Linked DNA regions of Homo sapiens. The protein of the gene in region 3 purifies or fractionates together with the protein of the main gene of each other region. This does not show direct contact. Each region holds a gene or a part of one and is shown on either strand. Other genes may lie near its edges.

The links.
Region 1: the proteins of TSFM (region 3) and ATXN7L2 purify together in Homo sapiens (affinity purification with mass spectrometry; 2 studies listed by BioGRID and IntAct, with this or other methods). This does not show direct contact.
Region 2: the proteins of TSFM (region 3) and AMY1C purify together in Homo sapiens (affinity purification with mass spectrometry, with the first as the bait; 2 studies listed by BioGRID). This does not show direct contact.

Annotation. Positions count from the first base shown.
Region 1 is NC_000001.11:109,486,839-109,493,279, reverse strand, and holds the end of ATXN7L2 (ataxin-7-like protein 2), read right to left. Parts: intron 6,274-6,441; coding exon 6,063-6,273; intron 5,763-6,062; coding exon 5,476-5,762; intron 4,898-5,475; coding exon 4,815-4,897; intron 4,434-4,814; coding exon 4,180-4,433; intron 3,998-4,179; coding exon of another isoform or gene 3,940-3,997; exon of another isoform or gene 3,351-3,939; coding exon 3,152-3,350; intron 3,010-3,151; coding exon 2,888-3,009; intron 2,359-2,887; coding exon 1,563-2,358; intron 1,254-1,562; coding exon of another isoform or gene 1,212-1,253; exon of another isoform or gene 1,176-1,211; intron 695-1,175; coding exon 680-694; 3' UTR 546-679; downstream 1-545.
Region 2 is NC_000001.11:103,752,801-103,759,206, reverse strand, and holds the end of AMY1C (alpha-amylase 1C precursor), read right to left. Parts: coding exon 6,398-6,406; intron 5,659-6,397; coding exon 5,525-5,658; intron 4,709-5,524; coding exon 4,586-4,708; intron 4,493-4,585; coding exon 4,393-4,492; intron 2,413-4,392; coding exon 2,294-2,412; intron 2,184-2,293; coding exon 2,058-2,183; intron 739-2,057; coding exon 549-738; 3' UTR 515-548; downstream 1-514. UniProt on the Homo sapiens protein: Calcium-binding enzyme that initiates starch digestion in the oral cavity.
Region 3 is NC_000012.12:57,778,103-57,785,787, forward strand, and holds the start of TSFM (elongation factor Ts, mitochondrial isoform 2 precursor), read left to right. Parts: upstream 1-4,684; 5' UTR 4,685-4,699; coding exon 4,700-4,756; intron 4,757-5,007; coding exon 5,008-5,181; intron 5,182-7,685. Other genes in the region: EEF1AKMT3 (EEF1A lysine methyltransferase 3), read left to right, coding at 2,153-2,544. UniProt on the Homo sapiens protein: Associates with the EF-Tu.GDP complex and induces the exchange of GDP to GTP. It remains bound to the aminoacyl-tRNA.EF-Tu.GTP complex up to the GTP hydrolysis stage on the ribosome.

The DNA.
Region 1 (6,441 bases), on a different chromosome or scaffold from region 3:
CAACAGCAATGACCAACCCAGCTCAAGCTCCCTAAGTGGCTGAGAAAATGAGGCTGCAGGAACAGCTGAAGAAAAGCAGGCAATAATTCAGGGAGGGATGGATGCCTAGGGTTGCTGAAGGACCAGAAAAGGGTCACAAGCCAATTCCCAGACCCTCGGGGCAAGGATCCTAGAAAGAGCCAGAAGTGCAGCTCCCCCTCTCGAGTTTCTCTTCCCAATGGGACCATAGTCGTCTCTGGTGTCAAGACTCAGGAAGCCTTACTCATTCAGAGCCACACGCCTCATCATCCTGTCTGGAAAGACTACCCCAGTGACACAAACATTTTTCACACTATTGAAAATGACAAGATGACAATAATAATAATAATGAGCATAAGAGACTTTTGCAGGCAAGCTATGGGAGCTGGAGTCTGGCTGCCTATCATCTCAGCCTCCCAGGGTAGGGCTGGGGACAGTAAGGACACTCATTTTGTTATTTTTTTTCCTTCCTTTTCTATGTTTCTGTTTTTATATTTTCATAGCAGCAACAGAACAGGGAGACAGTCTTGAGGTATTTTAAAGAGCTTTTTTTCTTAAAAAAAAATAATATAAAGTTATAAAAAGCGGCAGCAGCCTGGGGCCCGGATCTGGAGGGGAGGAGGTGCTGGCGGCTCCGTTGCAGTGGGCAGGCACTTTCTCGTTAATGGGCTTTTGACTGCAGGAAGACAAGAGGCGAGAGAAAGGGTCAGGGTGGGGGCCTACCAGCTGTCCTACCCAGTGAACTGTGTGCACTACAGAGGCTAAAGCTTGATTTCCTTCTGCTGGCCTGGTGAGTAAAACTGAGCAAGGGGGAAGATGAATGCCAGCTCACCAGGGGCAGCCTGGGTAGTGAAGCTGGAGAACACACAGGGTTTATGATTAGGCCCACATCTAACCCAGGAGAGCACCCCCGTCCCACCTCCAGTAAGTCCCTCCTGGCAGAGATCATATGGAGAGCACATAGCACACTACACCAGGGCTCCCACCAGAAGAGGCAAATAAAACTGGCTGCAGGCTTTACTGGAAACCCTGGAGAACTTGCCTGTCACCTGCACACCTGGAGGTGGGCACATGTGCATAAGTGGACATGGGGTTGTGTGCCTGCCCTTCAAGGCCCTGATGCCCAGAGGAAAAACCAGTGAGACCAGCCCACCCACCTTGCTGCTCGGCATGTTAGGCTGTGACCCAGGGACTCAAACTCCCTTTCCTTCAGGGAACAGAGGTAGCTCCAGTACCTGGAATGAGGGTCACAGCCAATTCAGAAAGAAGTAGCCCTTTGATTATAGCAAAAGCAGGGGTGGAGGGGTGCCGCATCTCCTCAGCCCAAGGGAAAGGGTTAGGGATAGGGGAAGGTTCACCAGGCAAAAAGCTGGAGTCACTTTGCTAAGAACTGACCTACCTCTTCCTAAAGAAAACAGTCCAGGAACTCTCTCAACTTCCCCTTCCTCCCTTTCCCTGCACAAACACCAATGTAGCATCTTCTCTGTATCAGGTACCCCCTGTGTGCCCCACCCTCATCAATCTTCAGGGAGCCTGGCTGGTACCTTCAGTGTAGAGCACTTCTCCTCAAAGGCCAGGGCCGGGCCTGGCTTCTTGCGGCGCACAGAGCAGGCCACATCAGCAGGGGCACCAGCCTGACAGTGCTTGGCCTTCACTGGCCGGCAATAAGTGGCCAGGTTTTTCCGCTTCTTGGCCACCTCCTCCTCAGAGAGGCAGTTGGTTGGCAGGGCCTTGGCTGGGTGTCCAGCTGCTCCCCGGTTCTCCAGCTGAGAAGCCTTGACTGGTGTGGGGAGCTGATGAGGGGAGCCACGACAGTCCAGGGGCCCTGCCCGCTTCACTCTTGGCCCCATTGTCCCATTAAGCCCCATGCTCAGGGCTGTTTTAGTTTTGGCCGAGAGGCCCCTACAGCCAGAGGGTTTCCCTTTTCCAGTGGGCTCCAGGATGCAGGTCCGTTTAAGAGTGGTAGGGCCAGGGGATAACTTCCGCTTTCGAGAAGGGGCCTCCACCTCCACCCCGTCCTTGCCTTTGGATGACTTGCTGGCCTTGGAAGGCGGCAGCTTGCTGAAGGACGGGGATGGCGTGTTGGCAGGCAGTGGTGAGGTGATAGCCTGGCTCCCGCCCATGCACTCTGCCTGGCTACAGGCAGCCGCCACGCTGGGGGAGCCTGCAGGGTAGCTGGGGACAAGGTTGTCCTTGGTGGGGGGCATGGAGGCTGGGCAGGCAGGTCTCAGGGTTGGACCTGGAAGGCGGGGGCAGGTGCCTGTAGAGGATGGGCTCAGGGGAGCAGATAACGGGGAGTTGACAAGGTGAGCTGGAGGTTCAGCTGCCGGTGGGATCTTCCTGCAGCAAAAAGAAAGCCCCACTGTGACTGCCAAGAAACAAGACAGCTTCCCCCAACACAAGACACACTCCAGTCTCTCTGCCCCACCTAGAAATGGTCAGCAGAGCCCCAGAGTTGCTGCCATCTGCTGGGAGATGCTGGAACTGAGGGTTAGGAAGAAGACACAGGGGTGCCTGTGGAGAGGAATTAGCTAGTACCTACTAACTAGGAGGCAGCCCACTAGGAACTTCATTTTAAATCTTGGTTTGGGCATCCCCTATCCCTAGTTACCCAAAAGGTACTGGAAGTGATGGATGAAAGTCTAGATTCACCCCCAGACCACCCTTCCATGCCCTGCCTTAGCCAAACTCTAGGCTGCCAAGTTTTCCCACCTCCTTTTCATGCTACTCCCTATCTGGGGTCCTGCTGGCAAATAGCCAAGGCACACCTATGGGTATACAGGAAAGATCAGGGCTTCTGAAGCCCAAGTATGTCTGGAACCTAGGAATTTCCATTCTAGAACTTCCATTCTGGGTCCGAGAGACTTACTTCCACATGTGTGTGCTGAGGTGCCGTTCCAGCATGGAGCTGAGTGCTGAGCAGAACCGGTCCAGCCGGCGGCTAAACACATAGCATCCTGGGCTCACCAGCCGGCTCCCAAAGGTGCAGAACTAAAGGCAGAAGGAAGGTGCATGGTTGGCAGGGTCTGGGGTGCACAGACAGCATCTGCACACAGGATCTGGCCTCCTCCCCATGTTGTTGGCCAGGAGTGCTGGGCCACCCCCTCCATAGGCCCCTATTCCAGGTCCTTACCGCCTGTGGCCGTGGGGGCCGGGTTGCATAATGGCAGTCAGGGGGTGGGTGGAGGTCGTCAGATGTCCCCTCCTCCTCACTCTCTTCGCTGGAGGCCTGGGTCCCACCCCGGGGCATGGGGAAGGGGAACAGGCCTGGGTCCCCATCACCACCACAGGGGCCTTCATCATCCAATTCACTCTCGGAGGAGGCCCGGGACCTGGAAGGGCCAAAAGGGATGCCAGGGGAATGTGACTGTTGTGGGGTCAGAGTAGGGGCATCCTTGAACCTGCCGAGCTCAAAGAGCAGGGCACCAGGGCAGACACCCTGCAGGGCAATCAGAAGAGGACAGAGGGAAGGGAAGGACAGGAGGGAACGACACAGCTCACAGAGTAAGAGACAGAGAGACTGCTCCCAAGGGATTCTCTCCCCAGCCCCTTCACCTCCCAGCCCCTTCCTCCTCAGGGGATAATCTGCTGCAGATCCGCCTCCTCCAGAAAATCTTCACAGTTAAAACTGTACCCAGCTCTGGTCAGCCCAGTCAACTCGCTCAACCCCCTTCTTGCATCACATATTCCTGTGAGCCTGTCTGTGAGCTGAGCCTGTGTTTCGTGTCTGCCCCTTGTGTGACAGGCAGAGATGCATGTGTGTCTCCTTCAGCAAGTCAGGCTCTCCCTGGGGTCCGGCATAGCCTCTGCACGCGAAGGGGCCAGTGAGTGAATACACATAGGGCTGCCTTGCCCAGGAGTGTGACCCTTTCAGCTCCCCAGTGACAAGTTTCGGTCTGTTGGAGGCAGCTGGGAAAATGTTCATATCCTGAGTGTTGGATCTGGCACACTGCCGAGAGGCTGGGGTGCTGTGGTATGCCTGGTTGGAAACAGGGGAGTCTCCTGCTTCCACACCACTGTCAGGAGCCCCAGGAATACCCCCACACTCAGGGCTGAGGGAGTGCCTCTTCCAGGACACTCCCTGAGCCTGTTTCCAGGGGCCCCTGATGGCTTAGGGGCCAAGTACCCCCAGGTGAGGTAGGGGTTGGATTCTAGACGTACCTGGGCAGTGCACAGTATGGGTAGGTCTGCTTGGCACGAACAGAGAAGGTGCTGCTGGGAGCAGCCACCGCTGCTACAACCTGGACTGAGGAGGGGAGCTCCTGGGAGGGGCGCTCGAGAACTTGCTCCTTGCGCCCTGGGCTCTTCTCCTTGGGAGACTCCCCTTTGCGGGAGTTGGCCTTCAGCTCTGCCACCAGCACGTCAAAGTCCTTGGCCCGGCCCTGGACTTCCCGGCGCTGGTGTACTGAGTGGATCTAGAATACAGCAGAGTGGAGAGCTGGGGAGTAGGTATGAACTGAGAAGGGGTGAGGGACGGCAGGGTGCTTTGGCCCGGGCAAGTTGGGGGGCAGGGAGAGAGGTGGGCATATTTGCAGCTGTGTTCATGTGTCTTTGTTTCATTCCCCCATGGGGCCAAAACCCTCCTTTGGGATGGGGGAATCTGGAAACTCCCTCCTTCCCACTGTTCCCACCTTCTGCCCAGGAGGGGCATACCCATCTCCCCTTCCCTTGGGTGGGCCTAACTGCCCTCCCTTAAGCTGGACCTTCAGTAACATCGACATTCCTCTCTTTGCCCAGGGAAGGAGTGGGCAAGCCCTGTGCTGTCCTCCCTCACCGTGCAGTGGGAAGGGGGTTACCTTGCAGGTCAACAGGCGGGTACAGATCTTTTTGGTCTCTGGATTTATTACCCCACACTGCCTGTTGAGGTCGCACTCCTTCCCTGTGGGGAAAGCACTTCCAATGAACCTCAAGACCATTTCCAGGAGTTTACAGGAGGATTTGGCCGCTTCCTGCCAAGGGCCTGAGAACTGGTACTAAGGCAGAAGAGACTCCAGCCCTCAGCCTGGGGCTGTACCTTCCAGATAAACTTCTGGGCATCAACATCTCCTTGCTGGGTGTGAGAACCATCCCTATCCCAATTTCAGGTGCGCCTTTTGGGACTTCAAGCCCAAAGCAGGGCAACACACATCAAGAAACAAAAGCAGCCATGGGCATCTGGGAGGCCAGAGAAGCCAGCTGTGAGATGTGTCTGGCTGGCGCCCTGGATCTAGGTGAGAAAAGAGTGAGAAAGAACTTCACCTCCTGGGCATGGGCTCCCTCAGCCTTGATCAGGAGACACAGGATGGAGAGAAGCTTCCCAGGAAGCAAGCAGGTCAAGAGGTGACGGGGCTCCTATACCCTACAACCTGTGATGGCCAGGCCCATAAACCTGACCTCCTCCTCATCCAGCCCAAGGACAAAGCAGCCCAAAGGAGTCCCCACTCTACATTCTGGACCCCCAAGACCACAACTACTCACGAGCCATCTTCCGGTGGGTTTTAGGGGGCAGCCTGGTCCCACTGGGCTCCTTTTCAGGAGGGCTGCCTTCAGCCCAGTGACTGGACCCCTCACTGGGGATGATCTCGATGTTCTCTCTGCCAGGAGGTTCTTTAGAAGGGGGAGCCATGGGAGGTTTTCCAGGGGAGTCCTTGGTGAGGCCCCCTGGCTGGCTGAGAAAAGCAGAGGGTGGGGCCACCCTGATTCCATGTCCATCAGGCTTCGGGAGACTGGACATCTTCTCCAGATTCACCACAGGCACGAAAAGGCTACACACAGAGAGAGGGGGTTGGCTGAGGGAGGGGAGGGGAGGCGAGGCCTGGGGCCTGGACTCTAGCCCAGAGCCATCTCTTTCCCAGCCCTGGAATTTGGGTGGGCTCCAGCAGGGGTGTGAAACACGGGAAGAGGAGACCCCATCTTCCCTGGAATATATGGAAGGAAGCTGCAGACAGGACGGCTGCCTCCTGCTGTGAGGAGTATGCCTTGACCCAGGGCTGTCTGTATTGATGTCAGCCCATCCATGGGTCAGGGTCAGGGCCAGTCTTAGAAAGTTTCCAGCCTCTCCTTACCAGAGGTTGTCCTTCTGGGTCTTCTCAGGAGGCTGGTGGCCACGGCTCCGGGACCCCTGGCCCTTCTCCCTGGAGGAGGTTTTCGTGGAACCTGGGGCCCTACAAGCTGGGCCCTGCCCATTCACTACATGGCATTTCTGAGAGCTGGCAGGGGCTGGAGGTGGGGGTGGGGCCCGGCCATAAAGCTTGCTGAGGGGCCCATGTCTTCTTTCTGTCACCAGGAGGTGGAAAGAATAATCAAGGTGAGTGGTATCACCACTTCCTTCCCCAACCTAACCATGTCCATAGACTCACATGAGAGAATCTGAGTTTCCATAAATTAGATTGTAAACATGCCTCCTTCCCATTTGAATCTGAGCCTTTAGGACTCAAAATTCAA
Region 2 (6,406 bases), on a different chromosome or scaffold from region 3:
TTAAAAATTGCTAAGATTGACCATAAAAATATGTAAATAAGACAACTAAAAATAAATTTACATGCAAGGTGTGTAGGAACACTTAAATGTGTTTGTGGTAAAAGATTATAAAAAGGCATAAAAATGTAAATGTTGCCTATGGAAAAAGGATTCTTTTGAAACCTATGTAAGGGTAAAATTTGGCTTTCCTTCCCTTGTACAGATTTTTCATGTAATAGAGAAGAATAATGAAATATTTGGTTTGCCTTGTTGGTAGAATGCCAAGGAGAGAAAAGAGTAGACAGGAGACAAACTGTTTGGAAAGCTAAGTCTTACCTCTTAATGAGTAAAGATTGTTGCCTAGTTTTAAAATTTTTGAGTCATCCTTTTGCCAAAATAAATAACTTATGTGTAACCTGGAATTGTATTTCATACTATCAAGTGTCTTAAACCTCTTTTTACTAATTAGAGCTTTTATTTAAAATTAATGATATGTAACTATTACTGTATATGTAAGAAAAGAAACACACTTAGCTATTGCTTTGCGGATTTGCATTTAATTTTAAATTTTACAATTTAGATTCAGCATGAATTGCAATAAATGGATCTTCAGCAGAGTTACTAATAGAAAAATGAGCTTTGCCATCATCAGAAACGTAGATTTTAATGCCTGTGCAGTTGCCATTAATTTTATCTCCAGAAATGACATCACAGTATGTGCCAGCAGGAAGACCAGTTTGCAAAGTTAAAGAAAATGTCCTGTAAAATAAAATTTCAGATTTAACTTCAAAACAATGAAATCAAGAATACAGACTAACACAAATAAACAGCATAACTTTATGTTTTAGAACCCTAAGCAGTGAAGTCTCATTAAGAAGAAAACCCATATGCCTCCCTAGTAGGTGTAAACAGCTTTCTAGGACCAAAAGTAACCTTACAGAAAACCTACCAATTTCCTTTTCAGTAGTGAAAATATAACCGAAAAATCAAAGTTGAAGAATATCACCGAAGATTGGCGGGAGCGGTCACATTTTGATAAAGTGCTACCTTGGTAAAATCAAATTTTTTCTCAACTGAACTTAATGCCAATTACTTTAAAAATTTAAAGGGTATTATTTTTTTAACCTTCTTTTATTCTACATGAGGTCAAAAAGAATTTAGGGTGTACATAAAAACAATCTAGCATTTGTATGAGGAAGTGATAGTTTGAAATATAAAGCTTTTTCACAAAAGATTTTTTTGGTATTTTCATCCACAAAAGAAGGAAACTAAGGAAATAGACACGCATTTTTTTGGCAGGAAAGAGATCAACTTGACTTATATATTTTTGTATTTATTTATTTTTCATAAGTGAAGTATAATTTATACTAGAGTGAGCTAAGTATGAGTGTCAGTTGGCCTTGGACAGAGACAATTCAACTGTTTGCAAGGAGGTCTTCTCAGCTACAGTTTCGGGAATCATTTATACTACAGCCAAAGGATACAAAAATCACAGATGAAAGGCCAATAATGAGAAGTTTCAGAACTAAAACTCAAGTCTCCTGAAGCAAATCATTAACCACAAGATACATATTATTTATCCATATGCTTTAAAAATGTTATTTGTCACAAGGAGACAGAGAAGTGAAGAAAGTATACCAAAAAACTAGGTAGAGCTGTCATTGAGAAAAAGAGAAATAAAGATATTTTAGTACTGAGGCAGCATTTTTCCATGATTAAAAGAGCAGGACTATAAGAAACGTTCTTTTAATGATTTCACAATCCTTCTATTAATTACTTTGTGTATTTTGTGGCATGTGTAGGTAAGCATATGAATGTGCATTCTATATATGCATAAGATATTGCAAGGGTGCACAGAAAGGATTCTGCTTACAACAGAAAGCCCTTATGAAAACAGGAGAACGAAGGAGTAACAGCCATCATCCTTTTGCTTCTACCCAATTTTGATCTCTATTGTCTTCTCGCTCCACTGACTACATGATTTTTCAGATATGATAAATGTCAATGAACAGAAAAAAAAAAGAATAAACCAAGAACATACTGGTACAAAATATTATTTTTAATTGATATTTACTTACCAGTCATCATTGTTGAAAACAATGAATCCTCTGTTTCCTCTCCCAAAAGCCACTTGGTTGCTCCCATTATCATACCAGTTTGTAAAAGGCTGGCCATCCACTACATTGCGGAAATTAACCATGTTCCTAAAAACACAATACCATATAAAACGTTGATATTCTTAAACTTCAACTGTTTTAAATAAAGTGCTACGGAAATTTACTATTAGAGGACATGTCTAAATACATATTCTCACCTTATTTGGCGCCATCGATGTTCACAGACCCAGTCATTGCCACAAGTAGTGTCTGGATTAATAGTAACTTCTTTAGTTACTCCATTATCATTTGGTGGCCCAACCCAATCATTAACATCCTTAATTACAGGAGGAAAAGCCAAATTTTAGCATATATATATTTATCTCTTCCTTCTCCTTTAAACCAAACCCAACCTATCCTGTTACTTGTGTCTCTGCATTCAGTGACTTTATCTAGAATCCAATGCCTTCATTGATTTTTATAGCCCTTTACTGGGTCTTCATCATCTCTCTATCCTCTGGTTCTCTTTTGCCATATTTCAAACAAAGGTAGCAAATTGTTATCCTCTCCTTTTCATTCCAAGGCACTGCAAAGACTTCTTTGCTCTGTCACCCAGGCTGGAGTACAGTGGCATGATCGTAGCTCACTGCAGCCTTGATCTCCGAGGCTCAAGCGAACCTCCCATCTCAGCCTCCCAAGTAGCTAAGACTGTTGGTGTGCACCACCGCACCCAGCTAATTTTTTTTTTTTTTTTAATTTTCAGTAGAGGCAAGGTCTTGCTAGCTTGCCCAGATAGGTCTTGAACTCCTCAGGTCAGCTGACCTTCTCAGCTGGCCGCACACAGTGCTGGGATTATAGGTGTGAGCCACTGCACCTGGCCTGCAAGGGCTTCTTAACATCACTGTAAGCCATGCAATGGCATTGAAATGGGAAGGGCATTAGTACTAGAAACACCAGGATTAAAACATAGGCTCTATTACTAGTAGCTGAGAAAATTTAATCAATATAAATAATTTCTCTGTGTCTCAGTTTCCTCATTTGTAAAATGAGAATAATGAGTTCTTTTGCTATAAAAATTAAGTAATATATGTGAAAATGCCTTGAACATGACATATGCTAAATAAATATTGGAGGCCGTCATGCTTCTTTTTAGATAAATGTACAAAATACTACATCTGAACATTTTTTTTTATAAATTGACCATATTTTTAGTATTATGCTTTTCTGATTGGCACTTTAAGAAATCTTCATTAAAAAACACAGAGTAACCCTAGGAAGTTTATCAGTGTTCACCTTAAAATCACGTCATATGGTGAAAAGTGAACAAAACTTAAGAGTTTATAGCATGCAGCAGTCCTGTCAAAGTGGGAATGTTATAGTAATAGAAAAAATAAAAGAACTCTCTGACTCCTAACAACAGAAATAAGACCAATTAGTAGAAATTATAAGAAGTTGTCTCAATATAAAAGTACACCTTCTAAATATTAAAGCTGTTTAACAATAGAATCAGTTGTTATACATAGTAGCGGACTTCTCAAACTGAAAGGAATCTAAAAAAAGCTAGCTAGATATCTGTGTGACTCATAGGAAGGAGGAATTTCTGCTTTAGTTCTGAAGTCTCTGATGCTGTTTCTCAACCCTTTAGTTTAAAAGAAAACCTTCTACTAGCTTTCCAAATATCTTTACACTCTTATTTCTCTGTTCCTTTTTGAAACTACTCAGCAGAGTGATGTCTTTACCATACTCCCAAATATTTTTCTCATTCTTACCTTTCTTGGAATACTCTCTATAAATTTCTATCCTTTAGTACATACAATTTCCTTCCTCTTATAGTATACTTTCCCTATTTAACTCAGCTGAACTGGATCATTTGTTTCTATACCATATAACTTTTTAACAGTATTTAAAAGACATTTATATTGTTCTCACTACGGGCAGATGATGTTTTAAGTTCTCTACAAGGGTTGGCATCTATATTCTTCCAATTAAACCTGAGGAAGGTACGAAGTATATATTTTAATCCCTGTGCCTAGCTCTTATTTTTAAGTGGTTTTTTTAATTTTTATTTTTATTTTCCCTGCGGGCTAGGGGGATGTTTGTCATATCTCTGAAAAAGCTTGCTATTCTTTTTCAATGGAGAATATAAAGTTTATTCCTTTAATATAACCTGCATTACTAAATCACAACCCTGTATCAGGTTTACAATAATTAAATATTTGTTGAATAAATAAACACTTAATAGTTGTCATATTAAATTAGGAGAAGATTGCCTCTTTTTTCTTGAGAAAAGGATATTTTGAACAACTCCAAAACTTACTTTTCCATTTTCAAAATATCTTGGCCAACGGTAGCTTGACATTACTCGTGTAAATCCATAAGGATGAGCAAGCATAAATCCAACTGCCATTTTGTACAGCCTGAAAGTTACATAATTATATTATCATAGAATATCACAATATTCATACCATCATTAAAAGAGGTGTTAAAAAATAGAGAACTTGGTTTTCTACCTAGCATCCCAGAAGGTAAGTATAGAGGCTCCTCCAGCGCCATGTCCTCGTTGATTGTCATGGTTATCCACAAAGACAAGCGCTCTGTCAGAAGGCATGAAACCCCAACCTTCTCCCCAGTTCCTATTTTTGAAACATAAGATATACGTTGATGTATCATTTCACAATAGTTTGAGAGTAACTCTACTGTGCATCTCTTTCTGTAAGGCATGGCATCTGAAGATTAAATTCTTTCTCTAATTAGATGGTTACTCTGTAAGATATATATATATACACACACACACACAAACACACACTCACATATATATACACACACACCTCATAAACAAACACACGTGTGTAATCTACATATATATAGTCCATATTTGTATATACATGTATGGAATACTTATATTCATATTACAAATATAAAATGTTTGTTATTAAAAAATTTCCTTTCAGAGGTTTCAGCACATTATCATTTAGAGGCACTCCAGAAGGATCAATATCCACATCACATTATACAGAATGTCAAACTAGATTAAAATAAGGCTTTAATATTGTATTGTTATAATATAAATCATTTTACATTTCCAATTCGTATAAGTAAATACAATAGCATGGACACTTTGTACATACTTTATAAATGATAGGATCATTTTAATAATAACCTGGCTTTAAAAGATTATATGCAAACATCAGTCAAATCCAGTATATTCATCTTGTACGCAGACAGAAACTCCTAGGGTAAGTTTAGCGTTCCTAGGCATACTGTCTTGTGACAGACACTCTAAATACAAAAGATGATTGATTAGAGTTTAGGGCACTAGAATACTTATCATTAACAACTGACTCCTTAATAGTTGTCTGAATAAGAATGTTCCAGAAGATAACTCGCACTGGGGTAGTATGACTAACAGATCTATGAAATAGTTCAGGGGAAAAGTTGTATTTATTTACTTTAAGTAAGACATCTTCTCTCCATTCCACTTGCGAATAACTGTGCCGAGTTTTGCACCATACTTGAATTCTGTCACCCGGCCATTACCAAAGTAGTCACTGCTTTTAATTGGCTCACCACCCAGATCAATTACCTAGAAGAAATTTAGGAAAAAAAAACATTTTGCATAAGGACTTTAAAGCATTTTAACCGATAAGTTTATATTATATAAAAATTAGCTTTCAGCTATTTCTGAGTTATTTTAGACTTGTTGTGCTTTGTTCTTTAGAGACAGGGTCTTGCTATATCGTCCAGGATGGTCCCAAACTCCAGGCCTCAAGGAATTCTCCTGCCTCAGCCTCCCAAAGTGCTGAGTTACATGCAAGAGCCACCACGCCTGGTCCTATTTGTTATATGAAACGCTCAAAATCGTTTTCTTATTCTTATTATCTTCATCGGTAATATTCTTATATTCTTTTTTTGATAAAGTATACACTACAATATTGAAAGAAACATAATGTCAAAGTTACCTGTTGTCCTGTGAGAATACTTACCTAATTTTTAGTCTTGTACATCAATGATAATAATAACAGCTCACAGGAATACGATATTTACTATCTGACTGACTTTTTTTGATAAATATTAACTCATTTCATTTTCCAAAGAAAATAAAGACATAACTATTATCAGTATCCTACATTCTGTGTACCTCCATAAAACCTGTTGTGATAAAGAATTAGATATGCTGTATGTGAAGAAGAGGAGGTTAAAGAACACTGTTTTAAGGAAATGACTCAGTCTTTATCCTACAGAAATTGCATTTTTAATTGAATCTGCCGTGAATTTTCTAATGAATAGGATGATATTTTATATGCCTATATGTATTGACGTACCTCCTGGTA
Region 3 (7,685 bases):
CTAGTGCCTACTCAGTATCTTCATGTGGTTGTCTGATGTGATATAGAAGTCCATGTCAAACTTAACGTGCTCAGAAAATGAACTCATGATCTTCCTGTCCAAATTGCGCCTCCTGCAACCTTTCTCATCTAAATGAGTGGCAATTTGGTCTTCTAGTTGGTCAGGCCAAACACCCAGAAACCATCCTGAGCTTTTTTTTTTTTTTTGAGACAGGTTCTCACTCTGTTGCCCAGGCTGGAGTGAAAGTAGCACAATCATGGCTCACTAAAGCCCTGAACTTTCAACCTCCCGAGGCTCAAGCAATCCTCTGACCTCAGCCTCCCGAGTAGCTGGGACTACAGGATGTGCCACCACACCCAGCTAATTTTTGTATTTTTTATAGAGACGAGGTTTTGCTATGTTGCCCAGACTGGTCTCAAACTCCTGGACTCAAGCAGTCATCCCGCATTGGCCTCCCAAAGTGTAATCCAAAGGGATTACAGGCGTGAGCCACTGTGCCTGGCCCATCCCAAGCTTTTCTCTCTCTCTCATATTTTATATCCAATCTATTGGCAAATCCTGTTGACTCTACCTTCAAAATATATTCAGGATCTGACCATTTCTTAGCCATTGCTACTGCCCTGGTTTAAACCATCATCATCTCTCACCTGAGTCATTGCCATCACCTCCTAACTGGTCTCCTAGCTTCTGACCTTGCCCTCCTGTACTCTTCTCATCATAGCAGCCAGCATGCTCCTCCTAAAGCATGCCAGCGTGTGCCATTCTTTTTTTTTTGAGACAGAGTCTTGCACTTGTTGCCCAGGTCGGAGTGCAATGGCACAATCTCGGCTCATTGCAACCTTCGCCTCCCAGGTTCAAGCGATTCTCCTGCCTCAGCCTCCCTAGTAGCTGGCATTACAGGCGCCCGCCACCACACCCAGCTAATTTTTTTGTATTTTTAGTAGATATGGGGTTTCACCATTTTGGTCAGGCTGGTCTGACCACTCAATTTAAAATTTCATTCTCCAGCCACTCAATTTAAAATTACATTCAGGCTGCCAAGACTTTGTCCTCTATGCCCTGGGGTCTCTGGACCTTCCAGGTAGGAGCCGAGAACCCTTGGTTGGTCCCTCTAACTTGCATTTCTCCCCATCCCTCAAGCAATTCTTATCCCCCTTCCCTGCTTGGGGCTTCACCATGGCATATATTACCATCTGATGTACAGTGTATTTTATTTTATTTATTTTGTTTGTTGTTATCATCTGTTTCTTGCCACTGGACCATAAGCTCTGTGAGGGGGGATTCTTATCTTCTTAGTTCATCATTATGTTCTCAGCACTTGGCATATAGGCACATAATAAATATGAATGAATGAATGGATTCCTAGTACTTCTTGCTTCTCTTTCTATCATAGTCATCATGATTATGATGCAGTACCTAGTGTGTCTCTACCTCTAGAATGAAACAAAGAAAGCTGTGTTTTTGTCTTGCTCACCTTATATACCCAGCACTTAGAAGGTTCTCCAAATTATATCTACTGCATGAATGAAGGTTTCTGAGATGCTAATCTGACCATCTTCACCCGTTTCTGCCCTTAAAGCTTACTGCCCTCAGTATCGAACCTGAATCTTCTTAGCATGTCATAATCACTTTCCCTTTGTCTCATGTCTTGACACTTTTCTCCCCCTTCCACATCCTCTAAGATGCAGCCTTTCCTGAATATGCCATGCTCTTTCACTCCCAGGCCTTTGTACTCACTGTTCTCTTCTTGGAAAGCTCCACCTGACTAACTCCTACTTGTCCTTTAGGGCTCAGCTGAGGTCACATTTTCTGGGAAGCTTTCCAGACCCTTAAGGCGAGCTTGTGTCAGTGGGGGTGGGTACAGAACCCATCTCCAGCTTAGTCCTGCCCAGGCTTCTGCTGACATCTGATTGTTGTGTGTTGGCCAGAGAGGTTGAAGATTAGCTCAGAGAGAATGTTGATGTTGTAGAATGTAGAGTAATGAGAATAGCAGTGGGTGAAATGGAGGTTGAGGCAACTAAAAGCCAGTGTGGGCTCTGGGCTGTCAAGACATTGTCCTCTATGCTCTGAGGTCTCTGGACCTTCCAGGCAGGAGCCAAGAACCCTTGGTTGGTTCCTCTGACTTGCATTTTTCCTCCTTCCTCTCTCTCAGGGGGGGATGTTACCATCACTGACCTGCCCCTGGCCCTAGAACAGATCCAGGGCAACGTCCAGGCCAATGTGCCAGCTGGAGGCCAGGCCCAGGTGCGTGCCTTGTCCTGGGGGATTGACCATCATGTCTTCCCTGCAAACTATGACCTGGTGCTGGGGGCTGATATCGTGTACCTGGAACCCACCTTCCCTCTGCTGCTGGGGACCCTCCAACACCTGTGCAGGCCCCATGGCACCATCTATCTGGCCTCCAAGATGAGAAAGGAGCATGGGACAGAGAGCTTCTTTCAGCACCTCCTGCCCCAGCATTTCCAACTGGAGCTGGCTCAGCGGGATGAGGATGAAAATGTCAACATCTATAGGGCCAGGCACAGGGAACCAAGACCTGCTTGACATCACCCTTGCTGTTCTTCTCAATCTCTTGCTCTAATGAAGGAACTGTGTATCTCAAAAACCATATTTCCAGAGCCACAAACATGAGGACCAAAAAGGATGGATTTCCCTGGCCTCTCTCACTTTCCTCCTTCCCTCTTTGTTACCCCAGATACTCTTGGGCAGGTGCAGTGAGGTGCCTGCTTACAAGGAATCCCAGAGTTCTGGCAGCACTAGTGTTAGAACACCAAGGAGGTTCCTGGCTCCTGTTCTCAGAGAAGGAGGATGGTAAGGTATCCAGGATTTTTAGGGGGTAAGGGAGATATATGGGATGTGAGAGCAGTGATTGTAGACAGACTGTCACTGATCACTTCCATTCCTGTTGCTGTTTACACAGAATGGACTTTAAAAAAATTCTGTGGGATTTTTTTTTCTTTTTTTCTTTTTTTTTGAGACAGGGTCTCACTCTGTCATCCAGGCTGGAGTGCAGTGGTGTGATCACAGCTCACTGCAGCCTCAACCTCTGAAGGCCCAGATGATCTTCCTGCCTCAGCTCCCCAAGTAGCTGGGACTAGAGGCATGCGCCACCACACCCGGCTAATTTTTGTATTTTCAGTAGAGACAGGGTTTCGCCATGTTGCCCAGGGTGGTCTCAAACTCCTGGGCTCAAGTGATCCACCCGCCTTGCCTCCCAAAGTGCTGGGATTGCAGGCATGGCCCACTGTGCTAGCCTAGGATTTTTTTTTTTTTTTAAGAAAGAATTAAGCCTTAAAAATCTATTGTGCAAGAACCCAACTTTTACTCAGGAGCTGAGAAGGAAGAAGCCTCAAACCACCCATTTCCTGCTTTTTAGAGATAGAGTCTAGTGGAACCATGGCTCTAACTGGGTCAAGTCCTCCTAGCTCTGAAGCTAAGGCTGCAGAGCTGTCCTTTGGACTGTATTTCTTCATGCTTTCCAGAGTTAGAGCCTTGATCACGGAACATCATTGTGTGCAGAAGAATACTGTACCTAGTACTAAGTTCTTTTCATCTTTGATTTTTCTTTAGCTTCATCAGTCCTTCCTTCCTAATCTCTAATCCCCTGAAGCCTAACACAGTTCCTAATGTGTTTTGCCTTAACCTCTTTTCTCTTCCCACATTGGTACTTCTGGTTGGGGCTCTCTTTACTTACTGCTTAGGCACATAGTCACCTTCTCTGGACTCCCTGCTTCCATGCTTTCTCCTTCAGTCCATTCCGCAAACTCTTGTGATCTTCCAAAATTAGCTCTGATTAGCTTTCACTTCCTGTAGAAGCAAGAACAAGCTCCTCTGCTTGGTACTTAGTCTGTGTCCATGTGATCCAAAATTACCTTCCTATTGCATTTCCTACTCCTTTGCTACGTGTATTGGACCTCTGGCCAAATTACAAAAGATGTACTCTTTGTTCTCTAAAACCACACTAAAGTTTTCTGACTTCTTTCACACTCTTTATGATAATCCTCTGCCTGAAAGGCTATTGCCACCTGTCAAAATCTTCATTATTCTTTGCCTCTTTCCTGAGCCTCTTGCTTGAATGTGATTTCTTTCTCCCTGAGACCCATAAGGTTCATCTTATGGGACCTTAATTTGTCTTGCATGGACATTTGTGATTCTCATTTTCTCACCATTAAATTACCTTGGAGGGTAGGGCTGTGGTTTACTCCTGTCTAAACCCCTGAAGCCTAACACAGTTCCTGGCACACAACAGGTGTTCAACAGATATTGTGCTCATTCAATAAATATTTACTCGCTTTGTTTAATGGATTCCACCCCTGCCTTCCTAGGTGACCTTGGACAAATTCTCGAACCCATTCACCAACCACACAAGTTTGTTGTGAGTCATAAATGGATAATGAATATAAATGCGCATTGAAAATAAACATAAAATGTTACCCACATTTCTTGTGTTGTTGTTTTGTGACGACTTTATTTCTTGGTTTCTGTTATTTTACCTGGGGTGGGAGGTGGGGGGTAATTCCCGTATGAAATGTGTCGTCTCAAGAAATCAAGTAGAGGCGAGGACTGTGTTCCTCCGGCCAGCAGGTGGCACCATACTCGTTTGGTGCGTTCCGCTGGAGAATTCTGGCCCTTCCGCCGCGCCGTAGGTTTGTTGCCTCACCAGTGCGCCCGCCGGAGGGTGTTTATCGCGGCTAGAGAGATGTCGCTGCTGCGGTCGCTGCGCGTGTTTCTGGTCGCGCGGACCGGGAGCTACCCGGTGAGAAGTCCTGGTGCTGGTACCGACCTGCTGTCCCTGCAGCTCTCCTGTGCGCCTGTACCTTTCCCTTCCTCCCAACCTCGTTTGACTCCATCTCACCTTCCCCGACAGCATTGCCTCTGCCCAGTCCAGCCCCGGTGCACCCCCCTTTGCACACTGTCCGCTCCCTAAGGTCGCTTCCCTGCCCGTGTACCCTTCACCCTCTGGAGTTTGCTGCTTCCTGCTCCTCATCCCTTTCTTATCTCATCTAGGCTGGGTCTCTTCTGCGTCAGTCGCCCCAGCCAAGGCACACATTTTATGCTGGGCCCCGTCTGTCTGCCTCGGCCTCCAGCAAGGAGCTCCTCATGAAGCTGCGGCGGAAAACAGGCTACTCCTTTGTAAATTGCAAGAAAGCTCTGGAGACTTGTGGCGGGGACCTCAAACAGGTGTGTGTGTGGAGGGGTGCAGGGCGGAGTACTAGAGCTCGACCTCAGACTCTTGGGGCGGTCACGCTGGGGAGCATAAAGTTAGACTGCTCTTCAGTGACCATAATGGCACAGTCCTAAGTGGAAATCTGGCTTAAATGACAACCTTGGCCTTGACTTTGTCTTATTTGAAAGCAGTTGAGTATCCCAGGATTAACAAACCAGACTGTTACGGTGTTTCTTGTTGCCTGGAGCTGAAAGGGTTTGTGTGAGCTTTGGAGTCAGATTGTTCAGGAGTCAAATTGTGGGGCCCCCACACTGTCTGACTTTAGACTTTTTTTTTTTTTTTCAGACGGAGTCTTGCTCTGTGGCCCAGGCCGGCGTGCAATGGCACGATGTTGGCTCACTGCAACCTCCGCCTCCCGGGTTCAAGCGATTCTCCTGCCTCAGCCTCCTGAGTAGTTGGGATTACAGGCGTGCGCCACGACACCCGGCTATTTTATTTTTTATTTTTTATTTTTTTTTGTATTTTTAGTAGAGATGGGGTTTCGCCGTGTCGGCCAGGCTGGTCTCGAACTCCTGGCCTCAGGTGATCCGCCCGCCTCGGCTTCCCAGAGTGGTGGGATTACAGGAGTGAGCCACCGCGCCCGGCTGACTTTAGACATCTTAATCTTTCAGAGTTGTGTAGTTTTTGCCTGTACGGTCATGCGTCTCTTAATAGGAAGATACATTCTGAGAAATGGCGTCGTTAGGAGATTTTGGCTTATGCACATCATAGAGTACCTACACAAACCTAGATGGTATATTGTACTACAACCTGGGCTATATGGAATTGCCAGCTGCTCCTAGGCTACAAACCGTTACAAAATGTTACTGGACTGAATACTGTAGGCAGTTGTAACACAGTGGTAAGTATTGTGTATCTAAACATAGAAAAAGTACAGTAAATAGGCATAAAAGATAAAAAACGATACATCTCCATAGGGAACTTATCATGTATGGAGCTTGCAGGACTGGAAGTTGCTCTGGGTGAGTCAGTGAGTGGTGAGTGAATATGAAGGCCTGCCTTAGGACACTATGGTGCACTATAGTAGACGTTAAAGCACAGTACACATAAGCTACATTACATTTATAAGAAATTTTTTTCTGTGATAATAAGTTAACCTTAGTTTAATGTAACATTTTTATTTTATAAACTTTTAACATGTTTTAAATTTTTGGACTCTTTTGTAATAACAGCATAAAACACATATTGTACAGCTGTACCAAAATATTTTTCTTTATGCACTTTTTCTGTGAGCTTTTTTCTGTTTTTAAAATTTTAAACTTTTTTTGGCTGGGCGTGGTGGCTCATGCCTGTAATCTCAGAACTTTGGGAGGCTGAGGCAAGCGGATCACCTGAGGTTGCGAGTTCGAGACTAGCCTGACCCACACGGAGAAACCTCGTCTCTACTAAAAAAAAATAAAATTAGCCTGGTGTGGTGGCAAGGGCCTGTAATCCCAGCTACTCGGGAGGCTGAGGTAGGATAATCTCTTGAACCCAAAAGGCGGAGGTTGTGGTGAGCCGAGATCGTGCCATTGCACTCCAGCCTGGGCAATAAGAGTGAAACTCTGTCTCAAAAAAAAAAACAACAACTTTTTTTATTGAAATATCTTTTTTTTTTTTTTTTTTTTTTTTTTTTGAGACAGAGTCTTACTCTGTCCCCCAGGCTGGACTGCAGTGGCACAATCTTGGCTCACTGCAAGCTCCACCTCCCAGGTTCACACCATTCTCCTGCCTCAGCCTCCTGAGTAGCTGGGACTACAGGCGCCCGCCACCACGCCCGGCTAATTTTTTGTATTTTTAGTAGAGACAGGGTTTCACCGTGTTAGCCAGGATGGTCTCGATCTCCTGACCTTGTGATCCGCCCACCTCAGCCTCCCAAAGTGTCGGGATTACAGGCGTGAGCCACAGCGCCTGGCCAAAACTTTTTTTAAGTTAAAAAATTGTTTTGTTAAAAACGGAGACACAAACACATACATTAGCCTAGGCCTACACAGGAGTGGCATCATCATTAACACTGTGTTCCACTTTCACATCTTGTCCTGCTGGAAGGTCTTCAGGGGCAGTAACGGGCATGGACCTGTCATCTCCTATGATAACAATGTTTTTTTCTGGAATACCTCTTGAAGGACCTGCCTGAAGCTGTTTTACTGTTAAATTTTTTTATTTTTTATTTTTTTGAGACGGAGTCTCACTTTGTCACCCAGGCTGGAGTGCAGTGGCGCGATAGATCTTGGTTCACTGCAACCTCCGCCTCCCGGGTTCAAGAAATTCAGCCACCCGAGTAGTTTATAAGTTGGAGTACACTCTAAAATAACAATAAAGCATATGTATTATAGTAAATACATAAGCCAGTAACATAGTTGTTCATTATTGTTTCAAGTATCATGTACTATATGTAATTGTATGTGCTATACTTTAATAGGACTGGCAGCACAGACGTTTTCTTTACACTAGCATTGCCACAAACATGTAGGTAATA